7 linked regions of the Homo sapiens genome follow. The protein of the gene in region 5 purifies or fractionates together with the protein of the main gene of each other region. This does not show direct contact. Each region holds a gene or a part of one and is shown on either strand. Other genes may lie near its edges.

What was found.
Region 1: the proteins of GLRX5 (region 5) and OPA3 purify together in Homo sapiens (co-immunoprecipitation; one large-scale study listed by IntAct). This does not show direct contact.
Region 2: the proteins of GLRX5 (region 5) and ACO2 fractionate together in Homo sapiens (co-fractionation; one large-scale study listed by BioGRID). This does not show direct contact.
Region 3: the proteins of GLRX5 (region 5) and WDSUB1 fractionate together in Homo sapiens (co-fractionation; one large-scale study listed by BioGRID). This does not show direct contact.
Region 4: the proteins of GLRX5 (region 5) and GLOD4 fractionate together in Homo sapiens (co-fractionation; one large-scale study listed by BioGRID). This does not show direct contact.
Region 6: the proteins of GLRX5 (region 5) and CLIC4 fractionate together in Homo sapiens (co-fractionation; one large-scale study listed by BioGRID). This does not show direct contact.
Region 7: the proteins of GLRX5 (region 5) and RAB11FIP5 fractionate together in Homo sapiens (co-fractionation; one large-scale study listed by BioGRID). This does not show direct contact.

Annotation. Positions count from the first base shown.
Region 1 is NC_000019.10:45,553,803-45,557,837, reverse strand, and holds part of OPA3 (optic atrophy 3 protein), read left to right. Parts: intron 1-3,188; exon of another isoform or gene 3,189-3,328; intron 3,329-3,926; coding exon 3,927-4,035. UniProt on the Homo sapiens protein: May play some role in mitochondrial processes.
Region 2 is NC_000022.11:41,510,527-41,514,561, forward strand, and holds part of ACO2 (aconitate hydratase, mitochondrial precursor), read left to right. Parts: intron 1-1,349; coding exon 1,350-1,442; intron 1,443-4,035. UniProt on the Homo sapiens protein: Catalyzes the isomerization of citrate to isocitrate via cis-aconitate.
Region 3 is NC_000002.12:159,283,822-159,288,646, reverse strand, and holds the start of WDSUB1 (WD repeat, SAM and U-box domain-containing protein 1), read left to right. Parts: upstream 1-1,943; 5' UTR 1,944-2,064; exon of another isoform or gene 2,065-2,287; intron 2,288-4,825.
Region 4 is NC_000017.11:772,124-776,158, reverse strand, and holds part of GLOD4 (glyoxalase domain-containing protein 4), read left to right. Parts: intron 1-239; coding exon 240-384; intron 385-4,035.
Region 5 is NC_000014.9:95,537,515-95,541,549, forward strand, and holds part of GLRX5 (glutaredoxin-related protein 5, mitochondrial precursor), read left to right. Parts: intron 1-4,035.
Region 6 is NC_000001.11:24,800,761-24,804,795, forward strand, and holds part of CLIC4 (chloride intracellular channel protein 4), read left to right. Parts: intron 1-4,035. UniProt on the Homo sapiens protein: In the soluble state, catalyzes glutaredoxin-like thiol disulfide exchange reactions with reduced glutathione as electron donor. Can insert into membranes and form voltage-dependent multi-ion conductive channels.
Region 7 is NC_000002.12:73,106,215-73,110,249, reverse strand, and holds part of RAB11FIP5 (rab11 family-interacting protein 5), read left to right. Parts: intron 1-4,035. UniProt on the Homo sapiens protein: Rab effector involved in protein trafficking from apical recycling endosomes to the apical plasma membrane. Involved in insulin granule exocytosis. May regulate V-ATPase intracellular transport in response to extracellular acidosis.

The sequences.
Region 1 (4,035 bases), on a different chromosome or scaffold from region 5:
TTGTGAGGCTTACAGGACAGTGGGGAGACTGATTGCAGACAGGTAACTGGATAGCCACTATTCCTGGTTGTGATAGGCACTCAGAAGGGGATAGACAGGCTGTATTCCTCCTATTCAGGAGGTCAGGGAGGAGAACGTTGGTCAGAGCTGGGATGGATCCTGGACCAGGACAGCAGAAGGGAATCCACTGGGAGAGATGTTCAAGATGCAGAATGGACCCGACACGCAGCTGAGAGGCTGTGGGAGAAGGGGAACAGCTGGGCTGAGGCCCCCGTCTCTAGCCAGGGGACAGGTGTGGGGCCAGGTGCTGGGTTCAGGTTTGGATGTGCTGAGTGTGAGAGGTCTAGGAGACATCTGGAGCGTGTTGACCCCCGCAAGTCTGGTGAGTCCTCCAGCTTAGCCTGTCCCGGCCCCTCACAGCTGTCCCTTCTAGAATCACAGCCCTGTGATTCATCCCCACCTGGGCCTTGTTTCCTGAACCCCACATCTGACCGCTGGCCCGAGGGAGAATGCCGTCGGCCCCTGCTCTGAAAGCCCTGAAAGCCCATGCCTGCGTGCACACACGCGTGCACACACACACACACCCTCTTGATTTGATTTCCTGTGGCCTGGGTATGTGCCCACTCCCATTGGCACACCTAGACCCACCTGCTGGCCCAGATCCCCATGCTTGGTCTGCACTGAGACACTTGCATTTCCACGCTGGGAACCTCACCCAGGAAGGCTAGAGGATCTGGAACCCTCACCCCTCACCACTCTCTGGCCACTGTGCTAGGTGTCCCTGACATGAAGGAGGCAGTGACAGTTACGGGCCCAGCTCTGGGCCACCACCAGGTCTGGCGAGTGTCATTGTCAGGATGATGCTGTCCTTCCTGTGTTACAGAGGGGCCTTGGGGCAGGCTGTCATTGCTCAGGCAGCAGGTGGCGGAGCCCCGGGGGGACCCCAGATCAGCCTGACCCTAAGACCTCAGTGTGGGAGGGGTCTCCACAGCCTGGACCCCAGGAACCCACAAGCCCAGGGCCTAAGTCACAGCTGTAACAGTAACTGCAGCAGCTGACAGTGACAGTGACAGTGACTTCTCGGGCCCTAAGCTTGCACCTCAGGTCTTCCCTCCAGCTCCAGCAGAGCTCCCCAAGCCTTCCTGCCACCCCACCCCTTTGAAGATGAAAAATGTGTAGTGGCTGGGCTCAGTGGCTGTCTCCTGTCGTCCCAGTACTTTGGGAGGCTGAGGCAGGATGATTGCTTGAGCCCAGGAGTTCAAGACCTGCTTTGGCAACATAGCAAGACCCAGTCTCTACCAAAAAACAATTTAAAAACAGCCAGGCATGGTGGGGCATCTATAGTTCTAGCGGCTCCAGAGGCTGAGGCAGGAGAATTGCTTGAGTCTAGGTGTTCGAGGTTGCAGTGAACTGTGATGGAGCCGCTGCCTTCCATCCTGGACCACAGAGTGAGAGCCCATCTGTTAAATAAATAAATAAATAAGATGGAATATGGCAAGACCCCATCTCTACCCAAAAAAAATAAAATTAGCCAGGCATGGTGGCATGCACCTGTTGTCCTAGCTACTCAGGAGGCTGAGGTGGGAAGATGACTCGAGCCTGGGAGGCAGAGGTTGCAGTGAGCTGAGATTGTTCCACAGCACTCCAGCCTGGGCAACAGAACGAGATCCTGTCTCAGAAAAAGAAAAAATAAATTGTGTGCCCTCTAGTGCATTTTCAAGTTGACAAGTAAAACTTTTCTTCATTAACCTTAAGTAGTTGTGAAGGATGGAATTTCTGGTTCTGGTGTGTTATGATACTGACATGTTCAAACAGCTGGTGCATCCTTCCCTTCATATTTATTGCAGTTCGCATACAATAATGATTTGATGCCTACCAATGTCTGGTTTAAAGATATATATATATAGGCCAGGCATAGTGGCTCACGATTGCAATCCCAGCACTTTGGGAGGCCGAGGCAGCCAGATCACTTGAGCCCAGGAGTTCAAGACCAGCCTAGGCAACATACTGATAAACCCCATCTCTATTTTAAAAAAAATACAAAAATGACTAGGCACGGTGGCTCACGCCTGTAATCCCAACACTTTGGGAGGCCGAGGTGGGTGGATCACGAGGTCAGGAGATCGAGACCATCCTGGCTAACACGGTGAAACCCCATCTCTACTAAAAATATAAAAAAATTAGCTGGGCGTGGTAGCGGGCGCCTGTAGTCCCAGCTACTCAGGAGGCTGAGGCAGGACAATGGTGTGAACCCGGGTGGCGGAGCTTGCAGTGAGCCGAGATCGCGCCACTGCACTCCAGCCTGGGCGACAGAGTGTGACTCCATCTCAAAAAAAAAAAAAATATTAGCCAGGCATACCTGTAGTCCCAGTTACTCAAGGGACTGAGGTGGGAGGATCATTTGAGCCTGGAAGGTCGAGGCTGCAGTGAGCCATGATTGCGCCACTACACTCCAGCCGGGGCGACAAAGCAAGACCCCGTCTCGAAAATAATACAAATAAAAACAAGCTCTTCTTTTTCAGTCAGAAATTTCACATGGTTTCTTTTTGTTCATGTACTTTTGTATTTACAGTCCACATACCCACAGAATTCCATCTAGTGATTTATATGTCGGCAACCAAAATACATACAGAAATTTACATGTTAATTTCCTGTGACCATAAGGTTCTAAATGCTAAGTTATTTTCTTCTGGATTGAGTTAATTTTGAAATTATTAGTGCGCAGTTACTTTAAAATGTTCATCTTTTGGATGGACATGGTGGCTCATGGCTGTAATCCCAGCAGTTTGAGAGGCCAACGCAGGTGGATCACGAGGTCAGATGATCGAGACCAGCCTGGCCAACGTGGTGAAACCCCTTCTCTACTAAAAATACGAAAAATTAGACGGGCATGGTGGCGCGTGCCTGTAGTCCCAGCTACTCAGGAGACTGAGGCAGGGGAATTGCTTGAACCTGGGAGGAGGAGGTTGCAGTGAGCCAAGACTGTGCCACTGCACTCCAGCCTGGCAACAGAGTGAGACTCCGTCTCTAAAACAACAACAACAAAAAGTTCATCTTTTATACATTTTCATGAATAATTACTAAACCTTAAAAGTAAAAGGAGATGTTGCAAATGAGTCTGCAAAGGCACCACACAAGGGTTCCCTCTGTGGTTTCATGTGCCCTTGGATGAATATTAATTGTTGCAGGAGTGAGTCAGGATGCAGCATCAATTCTGCATTGGTTTTAAAGACTCAAGTGCTGAGAACCTTCCTTCATAAAGAAGCAGCTAGGCAAGGAAGGAGTTTTTGTTCCAGCAGCACCACTCACCTCTTGAGCTCCCACCAAGGTATGTGCCCAAAACCTCACTGTGAAGAGCTCGCAGCTCTTAGCTGCACCTTCAGGGCTGATGAAATTCTAGGATTGGAGCCATCAGACTTGCAAAAATGATTGATTATTACAAGTGTATCTAAGTGTTCAGAGGCACTTAGCATCGACTGCCACCTTAAGCTGCCCTTTGGAGCCAGGAGCCCCCCTCTCCCCCATCTGTAGCCCCAACTTTGCATTTTGGGAAAATAAGGCAAGAAAGGAGGTTGGTCTTTCTCCTGGGAAGTGGGTGGGGCGACAGTGCCAGGGCAGGACAGCCAGGATGGCAGTGGCTTAAGGGAGGAACACAGGGAACTAAGCATCTGGCAACTGGACCTTTACACCGTCCATGAACTTGGCGCTGTGGAAGCTCCTGGTGTCCCTCTTGGGGCGCGGCCCCTCAAGTCCGAGGACCTCCCTTCTGGGGCAGTGTTTCTTATTCCTGGCTGCTCGCTAGAATCATCTGGTCTTTTAAAAGACCCCTGGGTTACCCAGGCTAGGTGACTGCATTCCCTGGGTGAGAGGGGTGGGGCTTGCAGGGGGCTCCCAGAGCGCAGCCTGACCCCTCTCTTCCCCCGCAGTGTATCACTGGGTGGAGATGCGGACCAAGATGCGCATCATGGGCTTCCGGGGCACGGTCATCAAGCCGCTGAACGAGGAGGCGGCAGCTGAGCTGGGCGCAGAGCTGCT
Region 2 (4,035 bases), on a different chromosome or scaffold from region 5:
TTGAGTGTATCTCATCAAGGGTCCGAGGGCACTGGCTGAGGTCCCTTCTCTGAAGCATCGCTCTCCCATGCCGGAGGCTGGCAGGTCCCATTTCCTAGTTCCTCCTTTGAGACTCAGTAGAGTCCACTAGAATCCCACCGTTTTGTTACTGGGGTCAGTCTCACTGACCCCACACAGGGACCTCCCATGTCTTCCAGATAAACCCTGGCCTCACATCTGCTGTGCAGTGGGCCCTTCCCTGTCCCTCAAGGAAGCTTCCTTCAGATTATAGGCAGGATGGCTACAGCCCGTGTCATCATTTCGTTTGGCTGAAACCTCCTTTTCAGAACAGTGGTCCCTTCGACAGCCTTCCATTTGGGCCCATCAAACACATTACCAAGAATTCAGCACTTCCGACAGTCAGACACCAGTCCAGGGGGCTCTCTCAGGTGTCGTCTAAGCCTGGGATCTCCAGCAAGTTATTTCAAAAAAAGCCTCTGGGGTTTTTGTTTTGTTTTGAGGCAGGGTCTTGCCCTGTCACTCAGGCTGGAGTGTAGTGGTGCGATCTCGGCTCATTGCAGCCTTGAACTCCTGGGCTCAAGTGATCTTCCTGCCTCGGCCTGCAAGTAGCTGGGACCGCAGGTGCACAGCTAATTTTTATTTATTTTATTCTTATTTTTATTTTTTGAGACAGTCTCGCTCTGTCTTGTAGGCTGGAGTGCAGTGGCACGATCTCGGCTCATTGCATCCTTGTCTCCCAGGTTCAACCAATTCTTGTGCCTCAGCCTCCCGAGTAACTGGAATTACAGGTGTGCACTACCATGCCTGGCTAATTTTTGTATTTTTAGTAGAGACAGGGTTTCGCCATGTTGGCCAGGCTGGTCTTGAACTCCTGACCTCAAGTGATCTGCCTGCCTCAGCCTCCCAAAGTGTTGGGATTACAGGCGTGAGCCACTGCACCCAGCCACTGCGCCTAGGCCAGGGCCTGCCTCTGCACTGCTGGCCTCATCTGGGGACTTGAGTGCCACAGGCACTCTTGGCAATTATTTAGACCAGTCCCTTCTCCAGATAAGGAAACTGAGACCCAGACCAGGGCAGGGACTTGTTCCAGACCCACCACCCTGGCCAGGTGTCACAGAACTGGGGCTCCATCTCTGCTCCCCTGTCCTTCTCTCTGACACTGCTAGTGGAGACTGGGCCAACATCCAAGCTCTTTGGAATTATTTTTAGAAGGTCTCTAAGAGAGGGCCTGTCTCCAGTGCCAGTATTTCAGAGTCAGAAGGGAGGCTGATGGGGTGGGGAGGGCTTGGTGAGGGTCACCTGGACACAAACCATGTTGCTAACGCCCAATTATTGATTTGTCTCAATAGGACATCAACCAGGAAGTTTATAATTTCCTGGCAACTGCAGGTGCCAAATATGGCGTGGGCTTCTGGAAGCCTGGATCTGGAATCATTCACCAGGTAAAGCTGGGCTCAGTCTGCCGTCCCAAGGGCCCAAGCCAGAGAAGTATGTTCCAGGCCTATGGGGGGAGGGGGTTTGAGGCCCAGGGGGGCTGAGGGGAACTGGATGACATATCCATCAGCTCTTATGCTCTTCCTCCTTTGTTTTGAAACTGATTTTCATTATGTCATTATACGTGCTCATTTTCTGGGTGAGAAGTTAAAATAATACCTCCTAACCACCCAGGTAACCAGCATTTTAAGTGCGACATGTTTCTTTCCACATTGTCTTCTGGGTGTGTACTCAAGCATCTCTATTCCCATAAACTCTCATACAGAACATGGTATTATTTTGTTTTTTTTCACAAGTGTCACCCCTTGTGGCATGCATCACTGACATTTGATGAGCCCATACTGTGTCTCAGGTACTAGGCTGAGCACTTGAAAGATATTTGCCATGCCCTGTGAGGTAGGTGCTTTTACTATCCACACCCTACAGAGGAGGCAGCTGAGGCACAGAGATGTTAACCTTCTTGCCCAGGGACACCTAGCTGGCTTACTGTGGAGCCAGGCCTGTGGGCAGGAGGGCTGGTCTGGAGCGAGTGCCCCATGCCACCGTGCTGCTCTGCCGCCTCCCTCGCCCCCAGAGCTCTTTCTGCTTCTGCACGTGGCGCTCCTCGGATTTCTTTTTGGCTCCTTCATGGTGTTCTGTAGGGTGAAGGTACCATAGGTCATGTGGCCATGTCAGCCGGGGGCTCCTCTGAGGTGTCCCAAGGATGGATCTTCTTTTGGTGGACAGTTGGACAGTTTTGTCTCTGGAAGTGCAAGTGTGAACGTGTATATCCTGGGGAGGTGGGTGCTTCCCTTTCTTCCAAGGGCACTGTTAGGGACCACTGACCTAGTTTGTGTCCATTTACATCCACCCTGTATGTATGAAACCTGCCTCTTCGCACCTTTGCAAGGTGGCCCTTCCCCCCACCTCCATCCCAGACCTCACTGTCCTGGCCTCCTCAGGATGTGCTGAGTCAGGCTGTAATCTGACGCCGCATGGGCTCCCAGCACCGCCCCGCTCTGAAACCAGAGCCAGCAGGGGATCACTCCTCTGCCCTGCCCAACCATCACTCTTGCCAGGAAGGGGCTGCGTGGAATGGCCGTTTGCAGCGGCCTGTGGGGACTAGAAAGCCCCTCTCTGCAGCAGGGTTAGGGAGTCAGGTGGACCCAGTCTTGGCCTTCTGTTACAAAGGGCACTGCAATGCAGGTGTCTCCCTTTCTACCTCAGTACAAATGCCCAGGCCTTTATGGCAGCTCCTGGGCCAAAGTTTGGAGCCGTGAGTGATGGCAGCTCACATCTGCCACCGGCTAGCTGCTAAGCATACAGCAGCTCGTGTGTTTGTTTCTTTAAAAAGAAAATGCCCAGGGGCCATGGGAGTACTTTGCAGCTTTACTTTCTTCCCGCCTTGATGTCACGTCTTCAGCAGCCTCAGTCCATTAGGTCCAACCCAAACCTGAACCCCTTTCCCTCTGGGAAGTGCCCTGGCCCCACTTGGCCCGCAGACCTTCCTCCACATCACAGCTTTCTGGTTCCTCTGTGGAGCCTCCCCGGCCCTCCCCGTGCCTGGCACAGTGGCTTCCAGTGGATCCTCTGTGGGATCTCTTCACATTATGTTCCAGCATCTGCCAAGTGCTTTCTGCACTGGATCATGTGCTCTGTGGGGACAGGGACTGTGGCTTATTTATTCCTCTCTAGCTCTGGGTTTGGGACCAGGTCAGTACAGAGCAGGTCCTTAATGTATGTGTGTGTTGTGTGGATGGATGGCTGAATTTCCAGGTGTAGTTCTAGGCATTAGTCCTTCTTCCCAGCCCTCACCCCCATCTGTCCAGCCACACCCACAGACCGGGGAGCTCACTGTCACGGCCAGCGTCATCGTGACATCTTCTGCAGTCCTCATGTCTGCCTGACCTCTCCCCCTGGATGTGGACCACAAGTGTCTACACCGTGTGGACCACAAGTGTCTACACCGTGTAGACCACCCCGAATTCTGTGTGCCCAGCCTTCGTGGATCCAACTTTTACAAGCTTGAGGCTCTTTAGGGATGCACTAGTCTTAAATCCTTGTACGTGGCAGCATTGGCCAGTTCTTCGCAGCCAGGTCTTCCCTCTGCATCCCCAAGAGATGAGACCTTTGGACCTTAGAGTCTGCTAGGCAGATGCTTGTCCTGAGGCAGAGGCCCTGGGGTTTCTGTAAGATTTCTGGGAGCACTGGTGGGTCCTGAGAGTTCACAGAGCCTGTCACACCTCTCATGTGTTCTTCCCCACATCCCCGGGTGGGGCACTAACTCCATCTGACTGATGAGCGGCAGAACCTCAGGTGAAGGCTCTTGCTGCAAAACAATAAATAAAAATGTTGCTTCCCGCAGGCACTATTCTGTGCCTCATGGACAGGATCTCATCCAGTCATCAGTGAACCAATGATGTGAGCACGATTGTTAGCTATTTCTTGATAGGGAAACTGAGCTCCGAGAGAAGTGACTTGTCCATGGTCCCACAACAACTAGTAGATGGTGGGGCCAGACCTCAGACCCCCCGATACAGGACGCCTGGCTCAGGGCTTGCC
Region 3 (4,825 bases), on a different chromosome or scaffold from region 5:
GACAAACACAACTACATATTGCTGAGAGTGTAAACTGTACAACCTCTCTGAAGAGCAGTATGGTAATACTTATTAAAACTGTCTACACCTTTATGCCCAGTGATTCCATTTCCTTTTTTTTCTTTTGTGAGACAAAGTCTCACTCTATCCCCCAGACTGGAAGTGGAATGGGGAGATCTCTGCCCACTGCAACCTCAGCCTCCTGGGTTCAAGAGATTCTCCTGTCTCAGCCTCCTGAGTAGCTGGGATTACAGGTGCGTGCCACCATGCCTGGCTAATTTTTTTCTATTTTTAGTAGAGATGGGGTTTCACCACGTTGGCCAGGCTGGTCTTGAACTCCTGACCTCAGGTGATCCACCCAGCTTGGCCTCCCAAAGTGCTGGGATTACAGGCGTGAGCCACCGCACCTGGCCTCCATTTCAATTTTTATCCTAAGTACATATTCATAAATATGGAAAAAGATTTATGTACATAACGTGGTAATATATTGAGGCTAAAAGAAAAAGATTTAGGTACAAAGATATTTAATCCAGCATTATCTACACTAAGATCAAAATTGTTGAAACCATCCAGCAACAGGGAAAATGTTAAATAATTTATGGTATGTTTATATGTAGACCATTATGTAGAAAAAAAAGCTAATGAAATTTTAGACATGGGAACAGCTCATGACACAAGTTTGTTTAAAAAGGCAGTTTCCAGGACTTTTTGTAAAATTAGTTTTTCTGAAAGACTGAGAGAAAATGTTATCTCTGAGTGGGTGATCTCTGAGGGGTGTAATTATTGACTATTTATTTTCCTGTTATATATTCTGTGTTTCCTACAGAGAGCTCTATTATTTATACAATCAAAAACTTGTTTTTAGAAAAATACTGTTTTGGCAATACTTTGGAATGGAATTTGGTGTTCAAAGTCTCAATCATGATGCACTCCGCTAATTTTAAAAAATTAACAAGAACTTCACAAAATCCTAATTTTTAATCTTCCCTTTCCCCTTAATCTTTTTCATTGCAAATAGTTTCCCACGGTCTCAATTTCATCTTTAAATGTGAGCATTTTAGGTCATTACTCTTCAAATGTAACTTCGGTCTCCACAGGCTGATATATTTTTAATGTTTCCTCATGGATTAAAAATAAAAGCTCTCTGTATCTTTGATTTTCATCTGAACATAGTCCCACACTATGTTGTGCATTTAGTTAACAAGTGGTAATTTGCTCAGGAACTTTTTTTTTTCTGGATAATTTTTATCTCAAAAAGCACTGGCAGGGCCACTTTGTAGTCAATGACACGTGGAAACCAGTCTACCGTGAGCCAGTGGGACGCACTGGGAAAGGCTGAAGAAAAGGCGCCCGGGGTTCCAGTGAGCTCAGGATACCCACCCAACGGCAGGGCTGGGGCCCGGGGCAGGCAGCCTGCCCGGGAGAGACCCCTAGGGGAACCCGAATGAGGAGGCGAGGGCAGAAGACGCCAAGTCACGGACCGCCCAGGGTGGCCGAAATAGAGAAGGCCAATCTGGGAGACCGGCCTCGGAGTACACAGTGCAGGGTGGAGAACTGGAGAAAGAGGTAAAAACTTTCAGCAGGGATGGCCGAACATTCCATGCAACGCCCCTTTAAAACGACGTTTCAGGCGATCACTAGGCCTTGCGACCGCAGCTTTAGCAAAAACAGAAAGATTTGCGACGGAAGTCCCTTTCCAAGCCTGAAATCGCCTTGACCCTAGGAGCCAGAAGCTGGGGAGGAACTCGCAGTCCGGGCGGAAGAGCGCGCATGCGCCGCCTCAGGGGCCGGTCCCGGGGGCGGGGCCTGTTCCCTCCGCCCTGGGTCTCCACAGGCTTTCGCGGGGCGGGGCCTACTCCCTCCGCTCTGGGTCACAGCGGGCGTTCGGGGGGCGGGGCCTGTTCCCTCCGCTCTGGGTCCCCGCGGGCGTTCGGGGGCGGGGCCTGTTCCCTCTGCTCTGGGTCTCCGCCGGCGCCCGCCCCGCCAGCCTCACCTGCGCGGCACGTGACCCGCACCGCCCGTGGGCACCTTGAAGGCGGATCCCGCGCGCCCCCGCTCCTGCAGGTGAGAGCGGCCGCGCCCACGGGCCGGCTCAGCGGCGGTGGCGGCAGGTGGGGAAGCGCGGCTGGGCCTGCTCGCGCGGGGCGTCTGAGCCCTCCATTTCCCGGTTCTAACCGCGCAGCAGGGCCCAACCGGGACCTTGAGTGCGGCGAGGCGTGGTTCGTGCACCCTTGGCCCGGGGCTAGGGCGGGCGTGTCGGCGTCGGGTGGAAGGAAGCCCCTTGCGGGTGAGCTCCCTGCCTCCCAGGCCTCCCTCTTGCCTGGGGTCGCTCAGTCCACAGAGGCCCGGCCGCTCATAGAGGGGGGCACATTCCTGGTCTTTCGTGCATGGGGGGTGTAAGTGGCGGACTTTATTTTGGGAGCGCTGGACACCTTTCGGGTTTGCTTTGAATGAGATGGGATTCATGTGTTTACGCTGGCCAACTGACCTGGTGTGCCCGGGAATTTACTGTTCGCGTGACAGCCGAGGCCCGAGGGAACGCCCACACCGCCCCCCCTACCCCAAGGCAGGTCCTGGGTAGGCCTGAGAGCTTTTTCAAAACAAACTGTTCAGCTGACGGTGGCCTCGGTACTTCCCACTGAATGCCCTGGAACTTGCAAAGGGAGCTGAGTGCGGCAGAGGGCTGGGAGCCGGAGTTTGTTTGGAAAATCACCTGTGCGCACTTGCACAGCTGGGATTTGCGAGCTCTCCAGAAAGCACCACCTGGTCTTGATTGTTTTCAAGACAGCAGTACAGGGATAGTCTACCAGAAATTTTCGTGTTTGGTTTTTAGGCTTTATTGGAGTTTATGTTCGAAGAAAAGAAGCTGAACTTATCCTAAAAGGATAAGATGAAGATAGGGAAAGGCATGCTCCTTATGCCTTAATATTTGTTTGATTGATTGATGGGGTCCTGCTCTGTTGCCCAGGCTAGAGTGCAGTGGTGCAATCACAGCTCACCGCCGGCGTCACCTCCGGGGCTCAAGTGATGCTCCCGCCTCAGCTTCTCGAGTAGCTGGGACTACAGGTGCTCGCCACCACACCCAGCTAATTATTTTTATTTTTAGAGAGATGGGGTCTTGCCTTGTTGCCCAGACTGGTCTTAAACTCTTGGGCTCAAGTGTTCCACCCATCTCGGCCTCCCAAAATGCTGGGACTACAGGTGTGCACCATCGCGCCCAGACTTTTTTTTTCTTTGGTAGAGGTGTTTCCGTAAATAAGACTAGGACAAAGGATTATCAATTTTACAAGTCAAGGTTATACCTGCCCCTTTCAGAGCTGATTCTGCCTCACTTGACACCAGTTTTCCACCGTCAGTTATGTTTCTGTGTGTGTATATATATTTAGTCTTGGTAGATTTTCTAATTTCATATTACATATGGATTATTTAAAGGCTGGAACTCAGTTGGGCTCGAACAAAATAAATATTCAACTTATATTTATTTAAGTACATTAGGTGCCTGACAGTTTTACATGGTGTGGATACAGAAATGAGCAAGATGGCAAAGTACCTACTCCTTTGGGATTTACATCCTAGTCGGAGGAGACAATTTAACAAATATCCGATGCTGGTGGTAATTGCTGAGAATATAGAGTGATGTGCTAGCCTAGGGAGTGGCTACTTTAAATAGGGAAACCGTCTCTGAGGAGAGACACTGAAATTGAGATCTAAATGACAAATAGGATCCCAAGAGCAGAGGCAAGAACATTTCAGCTTGAGAAAACCGCTTTATGGAGACGGAAGACTGTTAGGCCAAGGAGGCTGGAAAGAAGAGAGGGACAGTGGCCAGAGTTGAGATCTGAGAAGTGGGCAGGCGGGAATTATATAGGATTTTGATTACATAAGACTGTATAGGATTTTGTTTGCCATGATGAGTTTGATTTTATTCTAAATTTGTAAATTTGTTCTTGAGCGTGGTCTGGCTAAGTTCATTTTTTGACACTTTCTTAGGTTTTCTTTTCTTGGTTTCCTTGATTCATTCAGAGGTGGTTCCTCACCTCAAGTCTTTTGTATAATTTTACTATTTATCAGACAGGATGACAAACCATGATAGGACAGCTTTCAACATGGTCACTTATTAATAAATTTTCAATGAGACTTTTGTTGTTTTTTTTTAAGAGCAAATCCTACAGTTTGATTTTAAAGGCGGAGCAGATAGCCTTGGCTCCATCCTGTGAAGGGAACAGCTAAGATAGTTTATTAGAATAGAAAATACTTTTTGAGTTGAGATGAGCAGATCTGGAGTGAGGTATTTTTGAGAACTCCTTATGAGAAAGGCTTCAAAGGTGAAATAAACACCTTAGGTTTTGAAAGCTCAACATCAAATCAGTTTGAAGTTATTTGACAGTTTGAAGGTTCTTTTTGAGGAGTTGTGGAAATTTATTGGTATGACAACGGTGGTTGTGAGAATCAGAGGTTATAGTCTTATAGATTTTTTTTTCTCCAAATTGTTCTTATCCCAGGTAACAGGTTGTCCTTTAAAACAGAGCTCCCTTGGCCGGGTACGGTGGCTCACGCTGGTTATCCCAGCACTTTGGGAGGCTGAGGTGGGCGGATCACTTGAGGCCAGGAGTTCAAGACCTGGCCAACATGGGGAAACCCGGTCTCTACTAAAAATACAAAAAATTAGCCGGGCGTGGTGGGACATGCCTGTAATCCCAGCTACTTGGGAGGCTGAGGTGGGAGAATCACTTGAACCCGCGAGGCGGGAGTTGCAGTGACCTGAGAACATGCCACTGCACTCAAGCTTGGATGACAGAGGGAGATCCTGTCTCAACAAAACAAA
Region 4 (4,035 bases), on a different chromosome or scaffold from region 5:
AAATGAATCAGACTTCACTGGCATTTCAATTTCTGTCCTATTATTCACAAAGGTCTGAATGTTTGTGGGATAAAACATTGAAAACCTGTTTTTAAATCACTAGAAGAAAATGTTGGATGCCAGTTAAATCTTAGGTGATTTTACCTAAAGGCAGTAGGCAATAGGGGTTGGGCTCATTGTCTTGTTCTGTAAAATATCTGTTGTGATCATGTACTTGGATGTACTGTTGTTTGTTGTAGGGAATCACGCTCGCTTCTAGCCAGGCTGTCAGCAACGCCAGGAAGCTGGAGTGGCCACTGACGGAAGTTGCAGAAGGTGTTTTTGAAACCGAGGCCCCGGGAGGATATAAGTTCTATTTGCAGAATCGCAGTCTGCCTCAGTCAGGTAATTATACCAGAACCAGTAAAAGCCTCTGTCTAAAGGCATCTTTGGTGAAAGGAGAGTGAGGGCTGCCTGTCTTTTTTTTGTAGAGTCTGTGTTCACGTGACGTGTCTTCCCCAGCCAGTGCTTTTACCTGTTATCGGAGAGACTACATTCTCATATCAGAACTTAAATACATAGCAGTAGGGGATCTAGACTAGTTCTGTTCTACTGGTAATGTAGTGATTTATGATTCTTTCATCTGTAAATAACAGAAAACCCAACTACTTTGAACAGTTATAGAATCTTTTAGCTCACAGAGCAGGCATTCTATAGGTGGGAAAGATTTCAAGGTTAGATGATTCACCAGCTCCCCACATTTTCTCTTTCTACGTTCTGTTGTTCTCTGCGGGTACCTCTCCTAGAACTAGTCCCCTCAAGGTTGCAGGAGAGCTGCCAGGAGCAGGTGGGGCCACATGCTCCCACAATCCCATCTGGTAGGAGAGGAGATGCTGACTTCTTTTTGCTTTTTTTTTTTGAGACTCTGTCAGTCCGGCTGGAGTGTACTGGCATGATCTCTGCTCACTGCAACCTCTGCCTCCCGGGTTCAAGCAATTCTCCTTCCTCAGCCTCCCAAGTAGCTGGGATTATAGGCGCCTGCCACCACGCTCAGCTTTTTTTTTTTTTTTTTTAGTATTTTTATTAACTTTTAAAAATTATTTGTTTTTTGAGACGGAGTCTTGCTCTGTCGCCCAGGCTAGAGTGCAGTGCTGCAATCTCGGCTCACTTGCAACCTCCGCCTCCCAGGTTCAAGTGATTCTCCTGCCTCAGCCTCTCCAGTAGCTGAGATTACAGGCACATGCCACCACGCCCAGCTCATTTTTGTATTTTTAGTAGAGACAGGGTTTCACTATATTGTCCAGGCTGGTCTTGAACTTCTGACCTCACTTGATCCGCCTGCCTCAGCCTCCCAAAGTGCTGGGGTGACAGGCGTGAACCACCGTGCCCGGCCCTTTTTGCTTTCTTTTTAGGAGCAGAAGAAAAACTTTCCTAGAATCTTCCAGCAAACTTCCTGTTCAGATTTGATATACTGTGCCTGCTCCTAAACCAATCACTGGCAAGAGAAATAGGATCACCCCCAAACCATTTAGCCATGCCTCCTCTGGAGCCGAGGTCAGTTTCCCAGACTTGAGCGTGGGTACTCAGGGATGGCATGGAAGTGAGGAGCCCCCACGCTGACTGCCACACAGAACAAGAAGGAAACTTTGCAGGGTTTGTTTTGTTGACTGCAGAGGCAGCCTCATCAGTGTTTCATTTTGTATTTAATGCCTGCAAATTCAGCTACCTGCTCTGACAAAACAAAAGCAAAAACGGGGAAAATGCTGGCGAATGGCAAGGGCACTTGTGCCGACTCCCTTACTTGGTGAACGTATGCCTGCAAGTGGGCCTGAGAAGGGAGTCCTGGAAATTCTCCTTCTTCACTGGTCGGCCTCCTGTCCCCGATGCCCCCATGCTGAGTCTGTAGAATGTTCAGTGCTCCTTGTTTATCATCCGGTGCTCAGCAAAAGAAAGATCCGTCTGTTCCAGTGTGGGAGGCTAGACTTGGCTGTGTGGGACTCGTGGAGAGATGGTGTTTCTCTGCCTCACTGGTGATTTAAAGGGTGTTGATGGTGTTTTTTTGTTGATAGGTGATTGATCCTTTGCTGACTTTAAAACTTAACGCTTGCAGCTAGCTCCACCATCCATTTTTTCTCTCCAGCCTTAGTGATATTTCAGTGCTTAAAATAATAGAGAGCCCCATGGTGCTAAGAAGCTTTTGTTCTTTGGAATGGAAATCCCCTTGGGCATTTCTGGTTGACAATGTGGTCAGACCTTCTGTCCGGCTGGCATTCATCTTTCCTTTGAATTACCCACTTCTGTGCAGCTTCACCCACGCGTTAACTTCCTGTCCTGCGTCCCTTCAGGCTCCAAGTCAACTGGGATTTGTTGATTTTGAAGTAAATGGAAAGAAAAAAATGGAGCCTGCCAGGCGGAGGCACTTGTGAGAAACAGCGTCTTAATCCCAATATTGCTGTTCTAGCAAACAGGACTAAGGCAGTAAAGCCAAAGAAAAATGTACTGAATTTATCGTAGTCAGATGGAGACGTGGAACAGCTCTTTAGAAAGTCACTTTACAATGTGAAAAGTTTCCAGTAACAGTAGGTGTTTCAATATGACTTTTATTCTTTTTACAAAATAATCAAGTTTTTTCCTTAGACAAGCAGAGAAGCTGAAAAAAAACACACACACCCATGTACCCAGAGAGAACCACTGCTGACATTTTAGAGTATATCTTTCCAATCTTTTGTCAAAAATACGTATATATAATTAAGTGTATACATTTCTGTATATCCTTTTTTAGGAGTTCCATCGTATTATTACATTGTAGGAAGAGAAACAATTCTCTATTGTTGGATATTTATGTCGTTCCTAGTGTTTTATTGTTCTAAGCAACACTGGTGAATGTCTTTGTCGTAAAAGCCCTTCATACATCCACAATTACCTTTGGAGTGGCTGAAAATGGACTTGTTCTTTCAAAAGCAATGAGCACTTTTTAAAGCTTTTGGTACATTCCATCAAACTATTGCCCAGAAATGTACTGATTTACACTTGTATTACATGATTGTGATTTTCCCCTCTACACTAACACAGTTAACACTGCCAACTTTTAACATTATTTGCACATTAGTTAACAAAGGATTTTATGTGAATTCTAATTTCTTTGTTGTTTGGGGGCGTCGGGTTGAAATTTTTTTTTTTTTTTTGAGACAGAGTCTCGCTCTGTCGCCCAGGCTAGAGTGCAGTGGCGCGCTCTGGGCTCACTGCAAGCTCCGCCTCCCGGGTTCACGCCATTCTCCTGCCTCAGCCTCCTGAGTAGCTGGGACCACAGGCGCCCGCCAGCACGCCCGGCTAATTTTTTGTATTTTTAGTAGAGACGGGGTTTCACCGTGTTAGCCAGGATGGTCTCTATCTCCTGACCTCATGATCCTGCCACCTCAGCCTCCCAAAGTGCTGGGATTACAGGCGTGAGCCACCGCGCCCGGCCTGAATATTTTTTCGTATGTTATTTGACCATTCTAATTCCTTGTTTTGTGGATTATTGCTTTGTGCCTTTTGCCTATTTTTCTAGCATGTTCATTCTTTTCCTATTGATATTTACAGGTGATTTACATATTAAGGACTTTTTGTCCAATATATTGCAGTTGTTCCCCCTACTGTGTTGTATACTCTAGTTTTGATTGTAATTCCTTTTCTTGGTTGTTGTCTAGGAGTTTTCCATTTTGTGTAATTTATGTAGCAGAAGTTTTTTCTTCATAGTTTTTCTATCTTTGGTGTCAGGTTTAAAGAAAAATCTTCCTCTACTCCAAAATTGTATAAATAATCATCTGTATCTAGTATTTTCATGGTTTCATTCTCTAAACTTATTTTTTTAACCCATCAGGAATGTATTTTGTCATTTATTTCGAAGATGTAAGTTTTTCTTACCAAATGATTAGCCAGTCTTCTTAGCGCCGTCCATTGAATAATGAGGCTTTTCATACTGTCTTTGTTTTTTTTTTTTTTTTTTTTTTCGAGATAGGGTCTCACTGTCACCCAGGCTGGAGTGCAGTAGTGCAGTCTTGGCTCACTGCAGCC
Region 5 (4,035 bases):
TTCCCCAAATGGGGATTAGTTCAGCCAGGTTATTAAGACTCTTCCCCTCTTCCCTATACAGCTTTATTTACCAAGAGCAACTAACGGGCTGTCCGATGCTTGCTTTTGCCAGCCGAAACTATGTTTGTACACCAGATCCAAGGTCATTTCTAGTAATAGGAACGGAGCTCTTGCAAAACTGGCCTTTTGTTGGTTCTTATGCCAAGGAGACCTGAACTTTACAAAGTGCCTAAACCGGAGGAAAACATTCTTTCCTAGTTTTGAGTACTGGGTTCCCAGGAGTGTGATACAGACACATCTTGAGACTGTGACCCAAGGAACAAAGGTGACTATGAGGCAGCATTGTGTTCTGGCCTTCTCAAGACCTTCTTGTCCTTCTCTTTTTATCTGGAGTGCACACAGAAGACAGTCACAAAGGGATCAGGTCCCAGTAGACTGACATCATCATTTCCTAATCCTGGTCTTAATAAAGGAACTTATGCTCATGGAAGCAATGTAGAAAACACTGAAAAGTTTAAAGAAGGAAAATCACCTGTAATTTATGGAAACTATTGTATTAACATTTAGATCTAGTTCCTAACAGTTTTTTTTTTTTTAACACATTGAGACCATGCTTGTCTATACATAGTATTTTGCCCTCCAGAGACGAGGGAATATGTCTTATGCCACTGCCTGTGGTGCTGTGTGTACCGCTTATGCAAAGCAAGCTTTCAGTGAGCATTTTAATAAATAAATAAATACTGCTTTTATTTATCATTATATTGCAAACTCTGCGGCCTTAAAGGCATTATAAACATTTGCTGCCGATTTAGATCATCATTGTAGTCCTTGCATCTGGAACAGTGACAGAATAGGGACTCAAATGATTTGTTGAATAAATAACCATATCCTGTTGTTGAATGTTTATTAAGCATTTGAAAATACGCTCCACCTTTTCAGTATCAGGGAATTGAAGACAGTAGTGAAACATGTCATGCTGGTGAACCTTAAAAGTTGGATAACAAGTTGTGTGTATGTGCTTGTGTGGTGCACATGTATGCTGCAGATGGGAGTATAAAATGGTACCAACACTTTGGAGGAGTAACTATCAGTACCCAGTCAAGCTATGGGTGAACAGAGCCTAAGACCCAGCTGCGTGACTCCTAGGTATATATTCTAGAGAGGGGGATCTGCAAACTTACCCTAGTAAAGGGCCAGAGACTAAGTACGTCAGGCTTTGTGGGCTGTGTGGTTTTTGTTGCATCTATTCAACTCTGCTGTTATATAGCCTGAAGTCAGTCATGGGCAATATGTAGATGAATGAGCAGGCTGAGTTTCAATAAAACTTTATTTATGAAAATACAGCTTTAATTACGAAGTAGACTGGATTTGGCCTGAAGACCATAGTTTATCTGTCCCTGGCCTAGAGACTGACTTCTGCATGTGTGTGTTAGGACATGGGTCCCCAACCCCCAGGCCAGGGATCGAGGACTTACAGCAGGAGGTAAGCGGTGGGTAAGTGAGCTTTACCGCCTGAGCTCCGCCTCCTGCCACATCAGTGACGACATTAGGTTCTCATAGGAGCACAAACTCTATTGTGAACTGCACATGTGAGGAATCTAGGTTGTGCGTTCCTTACGAGAATGTAACTAATGCCTGATGATGTGAGGTGGAACCGTTTCATCCCGAAGCTATCCCCACCCTTCCCTGGTCCGTGGAAAAATTGTCTTCCACAAAACCAGTCCCTGGTGCCAAAAAGGTTGGGGACCTCTGTGTTAGGATACCTGTGTTGGCGCGTTCATTGCAGCATGGCTTGCAATAATGAAAAACTGACAGGAAGGGATCTTGGTCTATTAGCAGCAGACCAGATAAATAAACTTTAGTCACATGATGGAAAGCTAAACTGTAGTTAAAATGAACTAGATCTAGATGTATTTAACATGGCTGAATCTCAAAAATACAATATTTAGTCAAAAAGCAAGTTGCAAACACGTAATTATGGCATAATACCATTTGTATATGTAAATGTTAAAGGCATAAAACAGTCCCATATATTGCAGATATGTGTGCAGTGCACTTGTAGCTCCTGGGCAGGAGTGAGATGGCAGCTAGAGGGTAGAGGCCACCTCTGGTGAGGGACTCAGGTAGCATGTGGTTAAGAGTCTGGGCTTTTGTACTCCTGGAAGCCTGGATATAAATCCTGGTTTCACTGCGCTGTCACTGTGAGTTTCGGTAAGTTACTTAACCCTTCTGAGCCTTAGTTTCTTCATCTTATGTAAAGTAGGGATAATTGTACCTGCCTTGTCAGATTTTTGTAAAGATTAAATAAGATTATTTTTGTAAAACGCTTAAAGAGTATGAAACTCAGTAATCCTTAACTCAATAAATGGTATATATATATATATTTTTTTTTTTTTGAGAGAGTGTTACTCTGCTGCCTAGGCTGAAGTGCAGGGGGCAATCTCGGCTCACTGCCACCCCTGCCTCCCGGGTTCAAGCGATTCTCCTGCCTCAGCCTCCCAAGGAGCTGGGATTGCAGGCACCTGGCACCATGCCTGGCTAATTTTTTTTATTTTTAGTAGGGACAGGGTTTCACCATGTTGGCCAGGCTGGTCTTGAACTCCTGACCTCAGGTGATGCACCAGCCTTGGCCTCCCAAAGTGCTGGGATTACAGGTGTGAGCCACCGCACCTGGCCTGAATGGCGTTTTCATTACTTTAGGGTATACTTAATCACTTTTTCCTGCTTTATTTTCCTATGCTTTTTCTGTTGCCTTTCTCAGAAAAGCATTACTGTGAAGGGTGGGTGGTGGAGCATGTTGGTATGGAGAGAATGTCCACACTGTACCTGGTACTATGCTGGGAGCTCAATTCATTTCATTCCTTAGATATCATGGAATCTTCATAATATGTGAGGCGTAGAGTATATTCCCATTTTACAGATGAGGAAACTGAGGCTAAAAGATTAACAGATTTGTCTGAGGCTACATTTACAGGCTAGCAAACCAGATCTACTGATCCTTAAGCCTGTGCCTTGCCCACTCTGCCCCGTGCCTTGCTTTTCCTCTAGTGAGGGTCTACTGATTTCCGTGCTTTCAGCTCAGATCATCTTATCTCGACTTAACGCCATTCTCTAAATTAGAGAATATGAAGAAATTGTGACTCTCAGAGGTGGTGTAACTTGCCCAAGATCACAGAGTCTAGTAGGTAAGAGACAGAGTTGGAACTCATATCAGATTCTGAAGCTACTGTAGTGAGGTTCTACCAGGAAAAATAAAAAGAAAGAAAACTATGATTATGCTGCTCTCGTAATTTAGTGTCCAAATCAGGAGTAATGCCCAGTGTTCTGAATGTGATGAATTTTGAAAAATACCTTTTGAAAGTTCTGGAAGGGAATTTTAAAGTATCATTTCTGTACTCTTTCTGGGTTGATACTTTGGAATATGAATTTGTTTGTATGGGTTTTTTTGGTGGAGCATTAGATGCGTGTAAACTGACTTTGTAAGATAGCCTCCTAACTCCCAGTTCCTAGTGTTACTCTGCCATATAACTTTGCAGTCAGCATTTTCTGCCCCAGATGGAATCACCACCGTCTATCACATATGAAATAATGATTATCATTAAAATTCATTCTTGGATGTGATTTTCTAATTTTCAGGAGTAGCTCTCTGATTCTGAGTTAATTTCAAGTGATATTTGTAAGAACTACCACTGCATATTGCAGTTTTTGAAAACTAAAGTGTGAGAGAGATTAACCATGTGTAAACAGTTACTTGTGGATCCGCAGGATTCATTTTAATATTCAACTTATGAAGAGTAGTCTTTTATTATTATTAGGAGTTTCTCACTTCACTCTATAGGAAGCAATTGGGTATTTCCTTAAATATTTAAACTGGTAATCAACTTTCTTAAAAATGGAAAAGAGCATAGTCATTAAGAAGGGTGCCAACGTTTGGCCTTGATGCCAGCTGCCTATTACACCTATTCATCTAAAAATTAAAGAAGCAGCTAAGTTTAATTTTGATAAACCGTCAGCTGCTGTCAAGAACAGGCAGGT
Region 6 (4,035 bases), on a different chromosome or scaffold from region 5:
CTTACCCCCAACCCTGTGCTCTCTGAAACGTGTGCTGTGTCCACTCAGGGTTAAATGGATTAAGGGTGGTGCAAGATGTGCTTTGCTAAACAGATGCTTGAAGGCAGCATGCTCGTTAAGAGTCATCACCACTCCCTAATCTCAAGTAATCAGGGACAAACACTGCGGAAGGCCGCAGGGTCCTCTGCCTAGGAAAACCAGAGACCTTTGTTCACTTGTTTATCTGCTGACCTTCCCTCCACTATTGTCCCATGACCCTGCCAAATCCCCCTCTGTGAGAAACACCCAAGAATTATCAATAAAAAAATAAATTAAAAAAAAAAAAAAGAATAGTTGTATTAATGGGAAAAACTAGGGTTTGGCAGTGGATTCCTCTTGATGCAAGTGTCACAACATGATTTGCTATTATACTGATTTTTAAAACTATTAGTCTGTTCTCACATTGCTATAAAGAACTACCTGAGACTGGGTAATTCATAAAGAAAAGAGGTTTAATTGACTGGCAGTTCTGCAGGTTGTACAGGAAACTTGTCTGGGGAGGCCTCAGGAGACTTACAAGTATGATAGAAGTCAAAGGGGAAGCAGACATGTCTTTCATGGCCGGAGAAGGAAGAAGAGAGAAGGGGGAGGTGTTACATATTTTTAAACAACCAGATCTTGTGAGAACTCACTCTCTGTCACAGGAACAGCAAGGGAAGTCTGCCCTTGTGATCCAGTCACCTCCCACAAGGCCCCTCTTCCACCATTGAAAATTACAATTTGATATGAGATTTGGGCAAGGACAGAAATTTAAACCATATTATATATCAAGTCATGAACAGTGTCCAGGAAAAGATATTGACAGCCTATCACTTGATAAAGTGGCAGAATTAATCTATGTTATCCCTCTGAGCATCACATGCTGATAGTTACCTGAGAGCTATAATTCCATTCCAAGTTCTAGGTTAGTGTACTCAGATTTCTGTCATTCCCTTAAAATACATTTTTACTTACTGCTAGTGCATATATTTGAAATTTTACAGACTTTAAAATTTATTGAACATAAGCCATAAAGTCATCAAGGAACCCCTTTAGTTATGTATATAAATGTAGAAATAAGCCTTTGGGAATAGTGAGTTAAAACTACAAGCTCTTGGGAAGACATTACCTTATTCATGTTGGGCAGAGATGTAAGAATGAAATAAGTCATGTAGTTACCCTTCTATTACTGTTTTTTTTTTATACATGTGTACACAAAGCAAGTTTCCCAATATAACTCCTAAAAATAGAGTGTGCCACCAGGCACACACCCTTACTGTGTCCTAAAATACATGAATTTCTCCTATTCCATTTTTGGCTTGGAGCAAGTGAGTTGACTGCCATTCTTTGAAAAAGCTGTCATTGAATAGTTTAATACAGTGCTTTAATTGTGATACATACCAGTAATAGTGCCATAAACATGGGAATCTGGGTCAGAAAAGGAAGTAAACCCATTATAGCTATTTCAGAGTTGTCTGTTTCTTTTCATTTGCAGATTTTTTAAAGGCATTATTCCTATAGGTTGATTGATATTTGCAGATTTGTATATATATGTTAAAGTGTGTATGTGGAAATATGTGTAAGTGTATATGTTAAGTGTTTATATATATAAAAAGTGGCGCATGGGAGGTAGGCATTCAGGGCCTTATAATTAGAAAATATCAAAGAAGATATATGTTTATTACCTAGGGCTTTATGTAAAATCAATGGTAGAGAGCACTTAAAATTGAAGCTTATATTTTTTGGTCTTTAACAATCATAGGTCTCCAGTAAATATAAAAAATGCTTCTTAGGGCAACTAAAACTAAGCAAGTAGTACGTGATAATGAGTCTGTACCATCCCTACCCCCTAGTCATCAACTTCCCCTTCAGAGAGATAATTTATTTTAGGTTTGGTCTTTATTCTTCCAAATCTTTTCCTTTTTTCTTTTTCTTTTTTTTTTTTTTTTGAGACACGGTCTGCCTCTGTCACCGAGGCTGGAGTGCAGTGGCACGATCACAGCTTACTCTGTAGCCTTGAGCTCCTGGGCTCAAGTAATCCTCCAGCCTCAGCCTCCCAAGTAGCTAGGACTACAGGCATTTACTGCCATACCTGGCTAATTTTTTATTTTTAAGAGACAGGGTCTCCCTGTGTTGCCCAGGCTGGTCTTGAACTCCTGGGCTCAAGCAGTCCTCTGGCCTTGGTCTCCCAAAGTGCTGGGATTACAGACTTTAGCCACTGTGCCTGGCCTCGTCCAAATCTTTTCTATGAGTTTACACACTTGCAGTCTTGAACAAAATTTTAAAGAGAAAGTACCTCAAGAAAGTGAGCATTGGTTCAAAAAACAAAAACAAACAACCCACCAGTATATATGAAAGTTATCACAGAGGAATAAAACATCCCTGTAGTACTTTTCATAATATATTCTTAATCTTAAAACATTAAATGTGACTCTTTTTAGAAATCTTGGGGGAGAAAATATGCCTACAGTGCTTATTTTCCTGCTTTTCCTGGTAATTGCCTAATATCTTGGTGAGAAGTACTGACTCCAGAACAAACCAGTGGAGAACAATAGAACTCCTCTGAGAGTTACTTAGCAGCTCACTCTATGATTTGAAAAAAATGATTGTTACATGACATTTCATCCATAAGAACAAGCCCATTTCTAGTTCTGGCACTGTATGACATGTTCTCTTTGAATCTCAGTTGGCATTAATGACTATGCTGGTAGTATTCATGTGTCCCTTGTGAGGCTGTGAACAATCTCCCATTACTTGCCTGCCAGAGCAGCCTTCGTGCTTTGGTGGGAGTCATTTCCAAATCTAATTTTCTGTTCATATTGCAATTTAAAGAACGTTTAGATAGAAAAAAAAGGGCCCAGGCTTCACAAAGAATTTCAATTTACATCAACGATTTGAACAAAAGCTTCAGATAATATAAGTGAAAATACTAAAATTGGGGCAGAGTTAAAGATGTTCTGGCATGTCATCAGTTGGGAAACAACCATGGCATAGTATAGAAAATTTCAGGAGTGAGACCTAGCTGTGTATGGAGAGAGCTCTATCACTGATTTCACTGGGACCTGGGGCGAGCTGCCTCATCTTCCTTGGAGTTAGTTACCTTATATTTAAAATCAGGAGAAAAGGGAAAAAAACTTCACTTTTGTAATAGTTTAAAATGTTACAATGGAACTATGAAACTGATAGTTCTGCATATCTTAAAAGGCAGTTAGAAACTCAGAAAAAAATCTGATTCCCAAATAGACTCTTCAGATAGTTTTATCTTCATGATCATGTCTCTGTGGTTCCACCTTTCTGAAAACAGTCTTCAGTAACTTAAGAAATCATTTCAACTTCCATGATCTTCAGTAGCAGCAGCATGAATGACACATGCCAAGAGACTAAATGGAATGAGATAAGCCTGTCTTTCAGAGACATCATCTATTTCCTGCTGCTGTCCAGACAGGAAAGTCAGACTCCATTTTTCCCCTTTGTAAAGTTGACTTGAGCTACATGAAGCACTTGTTAGAACAGTCCAATTCAAGATAATTGTGCTTTATGACTGCATTCAGAATCACATGTGTACCCACTGTGTGTGTGGGGGGTGTGTGTATGTGTGTGCATGTGTGTGGGTGGGTGGGTGGAGGGGGTGTGTGTGGGTAGGTGGGTGGTGGGGGTGTGTGTGTATGTGTGGGTGGGTGGGTGGTGGGGTGTGTGTAGGTGGGTTGGAGTGTGTGGGTTGAGGGTGTGTGTGTATGTGGGTGGGTGGGGGGATGTGTGTATGTGGGTGGGTGGGGGGATGTGTGTACGTGGGTGGGTGGGGATGTGTGTGTGTGTGTGATTGAGAGGGGAGGGAGATATAGACACACAGAGAGGGAGTATTTTGTTGCTATGTCTTTATGTTCTTTTTTAAGACGATTTCAAAGATGATACATCCTGTTGAGGCTGCTAAGAGCTGAATTAATAGAATTATTAGTGAATGTTTTTCTAAACCTGTTATCAGTATACACTTTACTCCTAAACTGTTATCAAGATGGT
Region 7 (4,035 bases), on a different chromosome or scaffold from region 5:
AAGGCAGAGAAGACCAGGGTGTACCCTCCTCAGCTTTGGATAATGGTGGAAATGAAAAGTATCCATTCTTTAACTCCAGGAGTTGGCTGTGGTGGTCTCAGGTAGGGCAGGTGGTGGCCCTTTGCCAAGAGAGGACCTGACTGGGGAAGGTACCCTTATGGTTAGGAAGGGGCTACAGAGTGGCACTGGACAGATCCCAGTCCCAAAACTGCCACCTGTGGCAAGTCATATAAACTCTTGGTGCCTCAGTTTTCACGTCTGTAAAATGGAGATAATTTATACCTTCATATGGTTGATGTGAGGGATGAAATGAAAATGCAGCTTAAGCACCTAGTACAGTCCCTGTACATGGTAGGTGGTCAGTGCAGAGCAGTGATGGTGAAGGGAGATTTTAGTAACAATGTCTGGAAGAGCTTCTTATGGGATGGGGGAGACAGTCTAGAACTTAGAGCCTAGGAAAGCCTTAGGACCATGGGTGACGGAGTACACAGAAGAGTACGAGAGTTCCCAACAAAATGAGCTGGCCCTTTGCAGCTCTCTGTATTCTATTTGCTGCAAGAGGCCCAAGAAATAGGGCTGGGCTTGAGAGGCCTCTGCAGTCCTGAAACCAGGCTCAGATAAGCCCGCAGCTCTGCAGCTCTCCTCCCTGGCAGCCCTGCCTGGAGCTGCCCCTGCCCTGTTGGGAAGGAAGGATGGCCCAGGGCTTAAAAACCTGGAGACTGGGATTTCACTCCCCGTTCTGTGACTTACCAGCAGACAGGTTACTTATCCCACTTCCTCACTTTGAAAAAGGTCATGATAATAATCATAGAGTTGTACAGATTAGATAAGACACCATCTGTAAAAGCCTTAATGTAGTTCTGGATACATAGAAGCTCTCAAAATATTAGCGTGGTGGTGACTCTGGGGCCCCATTTTGTGTGATGGTGGTGGCTGGGGTTGTAGGTGCTTCAGCAGCCTCCGAAGGTCTTGTGTGAGTGGGGCAGTCTTTGAAATGAGGAATTTCACCAGAGGCTTCCAAATAATTGAAGAGGATATTCTCAAAACAAAATGTAATGGTAGTACACAAGGAAACTAATGATCTCCCCACCCTCAGTAGAACTGTCCATGGATCGTCATGTTCCTGTTGGTCTGGAAATCCTGGATGCTTCTCTGCGATTTATTTTCTGGTTTTTATCTTCAACATCCTTTTTTTTTTCTTTTTTGAGACAGTGTCTCACTCTGTTGCCCAAGTTGGAGTGCAGTGGCAGAATCTGGGCTCACTTGCAATCTCTCCCTCCCAGGTTCAAGCGATTCTCCTGCCTCAGTCCCCTGAGTAGCTGGGATTACAGGCATGTGCCACCACACCCAGCTAATTTTTGTATTTTTAGTAGAGACTGGGTTTTGCCATGTTGGCCAGGCTGTTCTCAAACTCCTGACCTCAGGTGATCCACCTGTCTTGGCCTCCCAAAGTGCTGGGATTACAGGCATGAGCCACCACGCCTGGCCCAACGTCCTTCTTAGCACTCCCCAGTGGGTGTCCTGTGTTTGCCTCCCTAACTCCCAAGACAGGGATGGGATGTGGTGGTTAGTTAGTTTTCCTTGTTCCCTGTGGGGTCAGATGGGTCATTTGGACCTTTTTGGTCTTTATGCGATTGGTGTGGATCACACCCCCAGGGAATGGACCTGGATATATCAGAAGAGGGAAGGAAGGAAGCAGCAGCAAAGGTTTTGGAGTAAGAAGACAGGGCATCTGCCACAAGGCCATTTTGGTTGGGGAGACCTGGTCTTTGCCCCCTGGAATGCTGGTCTTTGTGTGTTTTAGGAGAGGAGGAGAGAGCACAACTGTGTTATATGGAGCCCCTGTCCACCTTCTCCCTCATCCTGATAAGGGTGAAATGGTCCCTGCGGTAAGGCCTGGAGTGTGGCAGACAGGATCGTCATCCTGGGCCTGTTGGATCAATGGTTAGAAGCTGGCCTCTTGGGAAAGCAAAGGCTGTGGGTTCAGCTTGGGTTGGGATCAGTTTGTCTTTTTTCATCACAAAGACTAAAACTGTTGTGACCATGAATTGTGGCCTGCAAGAGGCTCCGTTCAGCCCCTGCTTAGACTGTGCCACTTGGCAAGGGAGCTCGGAGAGCTGAGGCTGTGAAAGATGTAGGTCTGAGATGAGAGCCTTCTGCCTGGCTGGTCATGGTGTTCTGAGACCTCCTTAGGTGGGTGGGTTTGGGGGCACTGGGAGGCACCTGAGGGGACATGCATCCCATTAGCCTAAGGCTGGGATGGTCTTTGAGGGCTTCCATCTATCCCGTAGCCCACAGACAGCCTGGGCAGACAGTTGGTGGGCAGATGGTGCGTGACCCCACAGCCTTCTCTCTGTTGGCTTCTGGGTGTGACTCTGCCCCTCGGGAAACAGCTGTGGTCACTTGAGCCCCTGGCCTTGGCTCCTGCTCGGCCCCAGAGCTGGCATGGGAGGCCTGTGGCACTGCTGGGGAGGTCTACTCTGGCTGCAGAGGAAGGGTGTGGCTGCACTCAGAAGCCAGTCGTTGGTATGCCGAGGCTCCACGGCCCTTAGTTATGGGGTGGTTTTTATTTGGGGTTGCTTGAGCAGCAGCGTCTTGGGGTGTGGGGCGGGGTAGGAAGTGTGACTCCTCAGTCAGGCTGGGCAGCTCCTCCTCTCTGGCCTGGCAGCTTCCCCTGCCCTCCCCATCTGCCCCTGGCCCTGAGCCCTGGCTGGGACCAGGGAGTTTCAAGGGGCCTGTGGTCAGCCCCATCTCTGCCCCACCTGTCTCTCCTTGTAGGCAGCTGGCTGCAAGGCACAGCTCAGCAGAGCCACATCCCGGTGACCTTGAGGGCTGTCCTTCTCTGCTGGGAGCTGCCCGCCCCACTTGTCACTGCTGCCACCTCAGTGCTGTGACGCTCTTGTCTAAACCACTGGCCTGGCCTTGTCCAGATGTTCTCCTGCCCTTCTCACCCTACGCAGGGACAGATGATGAATACAAGAACAGAAGCTGTTGTGGCTCTGCTCCAGGGGAAGCAGTCCTCTTTTTCTTTCCTTTGCAAAATAGTGTAGCCATGAAGCAGTTTTGTTCTTCCCCACAGCCAAGTAATAAAAATGAGTCCACATGTGAGTCTGCTGTGCACCTGGCAGTCCCTTCAGGGAAGAGTCTGATCACAGTGCCCTTACTGAGCTGGCCTGAGGTTATTTCTACCTTGGGAACAATGGTGGCCAGAGAGGAGAGGGACTTGGCTGGCCACATGAGGCCTCTGTATGGAGCTGGGCCCCGGCCTCTCAGGAGCAGTAAGTGGGGCCTCCCAAAACGGGGCTCCCAGGGGCAGCCAGCACCTCCGAGAAGCTGCAGGGTGGGGAGGGGGTATCACAGGCCACTGTGACCTTTGGTTCACCTGGTAGTGGAGAAGGGAGCACAGCCCTTACTCATGGGACTCCAGCATGGGAGCTGGAAGAGAGCTCAGACAAGGAAACTGGGGTTTGCAGAGGGAGAGCTGCACACTCTCACTACCCAGCACTTAGTGGAGGGTGTGCTCTGTGTGGTTTCCATTAGACCCGGGCAGCCCACAGAGCTGTAGGATTTGGGGTAAAGAAGAGGTGGCATTTGGAGCCCTGTGTGCACCCCGGAGTTTCTGTGGAAGTGCCTGCCAGGTTTTAGTGAGATGGGGACATTGGGCTTCTCTGCTGACCTGGAAGGGTAGTCCAATCCAAAGGCAGTTCTAGAGGCCTGAAAGGCCAAGAGTGGGCCACTGGTGGGGGAGAGATTCCAAAGGGGGGGAAGCCTGGATATCTCCCTACATTTGGAGGAAGCCCTATAGCCAAGTGCTGTGTTTTGGGGCCTAGACAGGGAGCCCTGGAGATGTTCGGAGCAGACAGAGCCACTGGCGCTGGCTGTGGTCTCCTCCTCTGTGAGGAGGGGACATACACCAGAGACCTGTCGGCCATCATGGAACCCATCTGCCTCCCCAGCCTTCTCTGAATCCCCACATCTGGAGCATGTGGCACCTGTTTTGGTGCATTATTTTCATTGCCTCGTTGGTCTAGTGCA